Regions from separate parts of the Homo sapiens genome. Here region 1 is linked to region 2. The links come from fine-mapping of genetic effects on plasma protein levels. A gene starts in region 2. The other region holds a variant in brackets. All regions are shown on one strand. Distances are between the middles of the regions. Region 1 overlaps XXYLT1 (xyloside xylosyltransferase 1). Region 2 holds the start of XXYLT1 (xyloside xylosyltransferase 1).

Region 1 (2,841 bases), 200 kb before region 2:
CGGGGTGTGATCTGTCGGCGCTCTGTGATCTGTCAGCGGCCTGGGGTGTGATCTCTCAGCGGGCTGGGGTGCCTGTGCGGTGATCTGTTTGCGGGCTGGGGTGTGAGCTGTCGGCGGTCTGGGGTGTGATCTGTCGGCGGTCTGGGGTGTGATCTGTCGGCGGTCTGGGGTGTGATCTGTCAGCGGGCTGGGGTGCCTGTGCAGTGATCTGTCGGGGGGCTGAGGTGTGATCTGTGGGCGGGCTGGGGTGACTCTGCAGTGATCTGTCGGCAGGCTGGGGTGTGATCTGTCGGGCTCGGGTGTGATCTGTCGGCGGGCTGGGGTGCCTGTGCAGTGATCTGTCGGTGGGCTGAGGTGTGATCTGTGGGCAGTTTGGGGTGCCTGTGCAGTGATCTGTTGGTGGGCCGGGGTGTGATCTGTTGGCGGTCTGTGGTGTGACCTGTCAGCGGTCTGGGGTGTGATCTGTCAGCGGGCTGGGGTGCCTGTGCAGTGATCTGTTGGTGGGCTGGGTGTGATCTGTTGACGGGCTGGGGTGTGATCTGTCAGTGGGCTGGGGTGTGATCTGTGGGCGGGCTGGGGTGCCTGTGCAGTGATCTGTCGGCGGGCCGGGGTGTGATCTGTGGGCGGGCTGGGGTGCCTGTGCAGTGATCTGTCCGCAGGCTGGGGTGTGATCTGTCGGCGGGCTGGGGTGTGATCTGTGGGCAGGCTGGGGTGCCTGTGCGGTGATCTGTCGGGGGGCTGGGGTGTGATCTGTGGGCGGGCTGGGGTGCCTGTGCGGTGATCTGTGGGCGGGCTGGGGTGCCTGTGAAGTCATCTGTCGGTGGGCCGGGGTGTGATCTGTCGGCAGGCTGTGGAGTGATCTGTCGGTGGGCTGGCTGCCTGTGTGGTGATCCGTCGGCGGGCTGGGGTGCCTATGTGGTGATCTGTCAGCAGGCTGGGGTGTGATCTGTCTATGGGCCAGGGTGTGATCTGTTGGTGGGCTGCAGTGTGATCTGTCGGGCTGGGGTGTGATCTGTCCGCGGGCCGGGGTGGGATCTGTTGGTGGGCTGCGGTGGGACCTGTCAGCGGGCTGGGGTGTGATCTGTCAGCGGGCTGGGGTGTGATCTGTGGGTGGGCTGGGGTGCCTGTGCAGTGACAGTCTGCTGTGCACTGGGGGGTTGGAAGGTCGAGGCCACTGGTGACAGAGGGGAAGCTCCTGAGAGGTTTACTTAAAAGTAAATGAGGGATGTTGTTTGGCCTTTGCCCATTTTGACCAACCAGCTTATTGTTTTTTTCTTGCAACAACAAAATACACACATAGCTATAGACACATTTTAATTATAGAAAGGATTGCAGGGAAAATACCTTTATTATTGTGAGTCTAAAATTCTTTAGCCTTTAACTCACTTTTTTCCCGTTGAAATAATTGTTTTTTTAATGTGGTGTTTGAAACACCTATGTTTTTAGAAGTTGAAATACAGCAGAATAGATGCTCTTTTTATACATACGTGTGTGTGTAGGTATGTATCTATACACACGTGTGTACACTGATATACATACACATATATGTAATTTTAAAAATAGGATCGTATTAAACATATGATCTTACATTTTGCATTCTTTATTTAATAGCACATTCTAAGTATTTCCTGAGGCATTACATATTCTTCGAATAATGCCTCAAGTATTCTGTTATATGGATGAAGCATATTATTCATCTACCTATTCCATTCTTTTTTTTTTTTTTTTTTTTTTTTTTTTAAAGACAGACAGAGTCTTGCCCGGTCCCCCAGGCTGGAGTGTAGTGTCGTGATCTCAGCTCACTGCAGCCTCTGCCTCCTGGGTTTGAGTGATCCTCCCAGCTCAGCCTCCTGAATAGCTGGGCGTGCACCACCATGCCCAGCTAATTTTTGTATAGTTGTAGACACTGGGCCTTGCCATGTTGCCCAGGCTGGTCTTGAACTCCTGGGCTCAAGAGATCTGCCGGCCTCAGCCTCTGAAAGTGCTGGGATTACATGTGTGAGCCACCGCGCCTGGCCCCTCTTTTTCACATTTTAAGTTGCTTCCAATTTTCTTCTACTATAAAAAATGTGATAAACATATAGTATATGACTCTGTCCACATCTCTCACATTTTCTTACAGTCGACTTTAGACATAATGACCTTCATGAAGTTTTCATAAACATTATCAATAGCGTAATAAATCCCCCAATACAATGGCTGGTGCACAGCAGGCATTCAAGAATTGTTACCTATAAATAGGAAATCAAGTAGGTGAGAGAACAGACCAATTCTGTCACAGCAGAGGGCTGGGAAAGATATCTGCTCCACCTCTTCAGGGCAGGATGTAACTGGGCAGTCTAGGGTAAGAGGGATGAGAAGAAATGGGGATGCTTTTGCTCCCCAGTGCAGGTGGACCTGCCAATACCTAGAATGAAATGATTCCTTGCTTTGAACCAAACATGCCAATACTACCCTCTCTGACACCCTCTCAGATGTGCCCTCTCCTTGGTCCTTAGGATCTCCTGTAAGCACTCATCTTCATCAGGGGAGGTGGGGATTCCAATGGCATTGAGTACACACTTGATTCAGAGCCTTCATGCAGCTGAAACTGTGATCAGAGAACAAACAACATGAATCACCATGTTCTCAAAGATGATTTATT[G/A]GCTATCCTCACTCATGGGAAAAAGAAAAACGTAAATGAAATCAAAACAAAACAAGATGAAAATTGATACAAATGGACCCCTGGGGCTTTCACGTCTGCAGCCTACGTACAGGAGGCCCCATCAAAAGAAATGACGCTTTAATTTCTGCTAAGGTCTACGGTCTAACGTGGTATGATAAGGGGATTTTTTAAACAAA
Region 2 (2,841 bases):
AATCACTGACATCTGGCTAGAAGTCCCCAGACACTAAACCCTCACCCCTCAACAGAGGAGGTATCAGTTCCCTCTGGTCATTTGCAGCTGCCTCCAGGCCTTGAGTGAGGCTGCCAGAACTGGGCCCAGTAAAGTGGGGTAGTCCGAGCATGAAACACTTACTCCAAGACAGGAGGGGCTCGGCCCTGAGGCTGGATCTACCCCTGGGCCAATATTTCTGGTGCCAACTAAGAGTGCCAGGCATTGTACATAGGGATGGATGATAAGACATGATACAGTCACAGCACCAGGGAAGTAGAAAAGGAAAGAAGGGACGCTTCCTTGGCTCCAAGGAGGGGATGGTATCTGAAGATGGGCAAGACTTGGAGATGGAGAGAAGGAGCACCCCAACAGTGGGAATGACAAAAGCAAAGGCAAGTAGGCTGGAAAGCACTGGCTGTGCAGCTAGCGCTGCAGCGGGAGCTGGGGACAAGGGGACAGAGATCCGGCAACGGTGCAGAGTAGGCCCAGAAGAGATGACAATGCTATCTTCAAGGCGGTGTTTGGAGACCTGGTCAAATCCCAAGATCTGCCCAGACTGACCCTATGGCCAAGGGCCCTCAGTTTTCTACCGTGAACTAGTGCAAAGTTTCTCAAATATTAGGGTCATTAGGATCACCTGGGACAGGTTGCCAGGCTCCTCCTCCAGCGAGGACCTTCAGAGGTCCCAGGGTCTAGGGACTTTCTCAGGAGAGGTGAAAGCTGAGTAAAGAATGGCCAAGGGCCCAAGAGGACACTGTGGGCAGACAGTACAGCATGTATAAGGCCCACTCCCTACATAGCTAAGGTATGAGGTGCATGTAGACAAAGGAGGAGAGGTGAAGCCAGAGAAGTGGACCAGGCTCACAACACAACAGCCCTACCAATAAACTGGGACTTCACCCCGTAGGCAACAAGGAGCTATCAGAGACTCCCGAAGCCTGTAGGATCCTGGCAACAGCTCCCCTAGTCACTCACATAATACAACTCCTGTCTCAGCATGCTTCCCCAACCAACATCAGTCTCCACCCTTTAATATTACCTACTACTCCTTAAAATCTGGCCTCGGATCCCCTCTGTACAACTATTAGGTCAAAATCAAATAAGCAATTTGACCTAGGCAATTCACACTATGTCAGAAACACATCTCAGACAAGGAGAGCCAGGCAGTGAAGACAGATGATAAACAGAGATGGAAGCTGTCATGGAGGCAGACTGGTCCAGCCTGGGACAAGGCGGCCAGCTGTGCTCTCCCCAGATCATATCTGTTCCTCTTGAGCTTTCTCTTCCTCATTCGGAGGAACTCCAGGCTTCTCTAAATGGGTTCATGACCCTTGGAGGAAGGGGAAAAAGGGACACAGAGAGGAGATAAGATGGTTCACAATGAGTTTGACCAGATCCTACTGAAATACCTTAAGAGCAATGAGAAGTGTCACTGCAACTTCAACACTTCCAGAGGCCTCACCAAGGCCCTCTCCAGTTGCTCAGGATGACTACTGGTGACCAGTCCCATCCTCAGAAGTCAAAAACTGAGGAACATAAACAGAGGTGCAGACTCTGAAGGCAGTGCTGAACCCTGCAACGTTAGCAAAATGGGGGCGCGCGGACTCTCCTGGGGGCTGCGCTTAACTGGGGGAGAGGAAAACGAGGCGGTCATTAAAAACGCAGCTCCACTCCTCAGCACCAGCTGAGGGCGTCTGGCTCCCGGACACGCCCCCGAACGAGCCCTCCCGCAGGTTGTGAACACTACATTGCAAGCGGGCAGCTCAGGGAAGATCCTACCCGCTAGTTCCCCGGATCCCCTCCGGGAGCGCAAACTGACCTCGCCTAGGATGGGGTGGGCCACCCACCGGGAGCCCCCAGCCGCGGCCCGCTCACCTTGCACTTGAAGCCAGCGGCGGGCGGCAGGAGCTCCCGCAGCAGGCCCTTGGCCACCTCGCGGCTGGCCTCCTCGCTCACGAAGTGAAGGTTAAGCACCTCGTGCGCCTCGAACTTGGCGAGGCGCAGCAGTGAGCGCAGCGCGACGCGGGCCTTGGCCTGCAGCGCGGCATTGTGCTCCGCCTTGGTGAACATCATCAGCAGGTGGTAGTCCACCGGCCCGGCACCGCCGCCCTCCAAGCTCTTGGCCTTCGCGCCGGGGGCTGGCGCCACGGAGCCCCGCGCTAGCTCCAGCGCGGGCGGCGAGGGCGCGGCGGGAGCCCCGGCGCGGGCCTCCTTCAGCCTCTTGGTGGCGCTGGAGAAGGTCTCCCGGCCTGAGCCGAGGTAGTAGAAGGCGCAGACGGCCAGCGCCGCGGCCAGCAGCAGGGCGCAGTAGTGGGAGCGCACAGCGCCCAGGCGCGCCATGGCCCGAGCGCATGGGAGCCCGCCTCGGAGGAGGCCCATGCGCTACGAGACCGCGGCGCCAGCGGTGCCAGCAACGCGGGAGAGCCCTCGGGTACCCGGACGCCGGCGGCCACTTAGCCCCGGCGCCAGGCGGCGGCCATGAAAGGGGCGGGGCCGCGCCGCCTGGAGCCAATCGCGGGCGCCGGTGCGCGGAGGGGCGGGGCCGGGCGTGCCGAAACCGCTGGGTCCTAGGTTCCAAGGGTATTAGAGGAGGGGTTAGGGTGGGATCCGGCGCCCGGCGTTGGGAGGGGGGGATTCCGGACTCCAGCGTGCTGAGGGCTGGCCCGCTGTCCCGGCTGAGAAATGGCGCCCTACGCGGCGAGCCCCAGAGGATATCCAAGCTGAGTGTTGAAGGGAATGGAGGCGCCCGAACAGAGGAACTTAGGTTAGCCAAAAGCGAAGCTGGAGGCACCAAGAGGTAAAACTTTAATCTCTGCACCT

What was found. PIP is the chance, under the fine-mapping model, that this variant and not a neighbour inherited with it causes the effect. Protein levels are from the aptamer-based SomaScan assay of Sun 2018.
Region 1: its variant is fine-mapped to the plasma level of the XXYLT1 protein (Sun 2018, PIP 0.95).

The regions. Positions count from the first base shown.
Region 1 is chr3:195,065,659-195,068,499 of GRCh38, forward strand. XXYLT1 (xyloside xylosyltransferase 1) reads right to left here. Exons shown (of 4, transcript NM_152531.5): 4 at 2,626-2,841. Among named protein-coding and RNA genes, the nearest start is that of XXYLT1-AS1, 28 kb to the right of the region's middle. RefSeq lists an enhancer at 2,674-2,841. The variant G/A (reference allele first, on the strand shown) is at 2,645.
Region 2 is chr3:195,268,659-195,271,499 of GRCh38, forward strand. XXYLT1 (xyloside xylosyltransferase 1) reads right to left here and starts at 2,501. Exons shown (of 4, transcript NM_152531.5): 1 at 1,897-2,501. The coding sequence starts at 2,400. RefSeq lists an enhancer at 1,740-2,531 and silencers at 1,782-1,961, 2,122-2,651.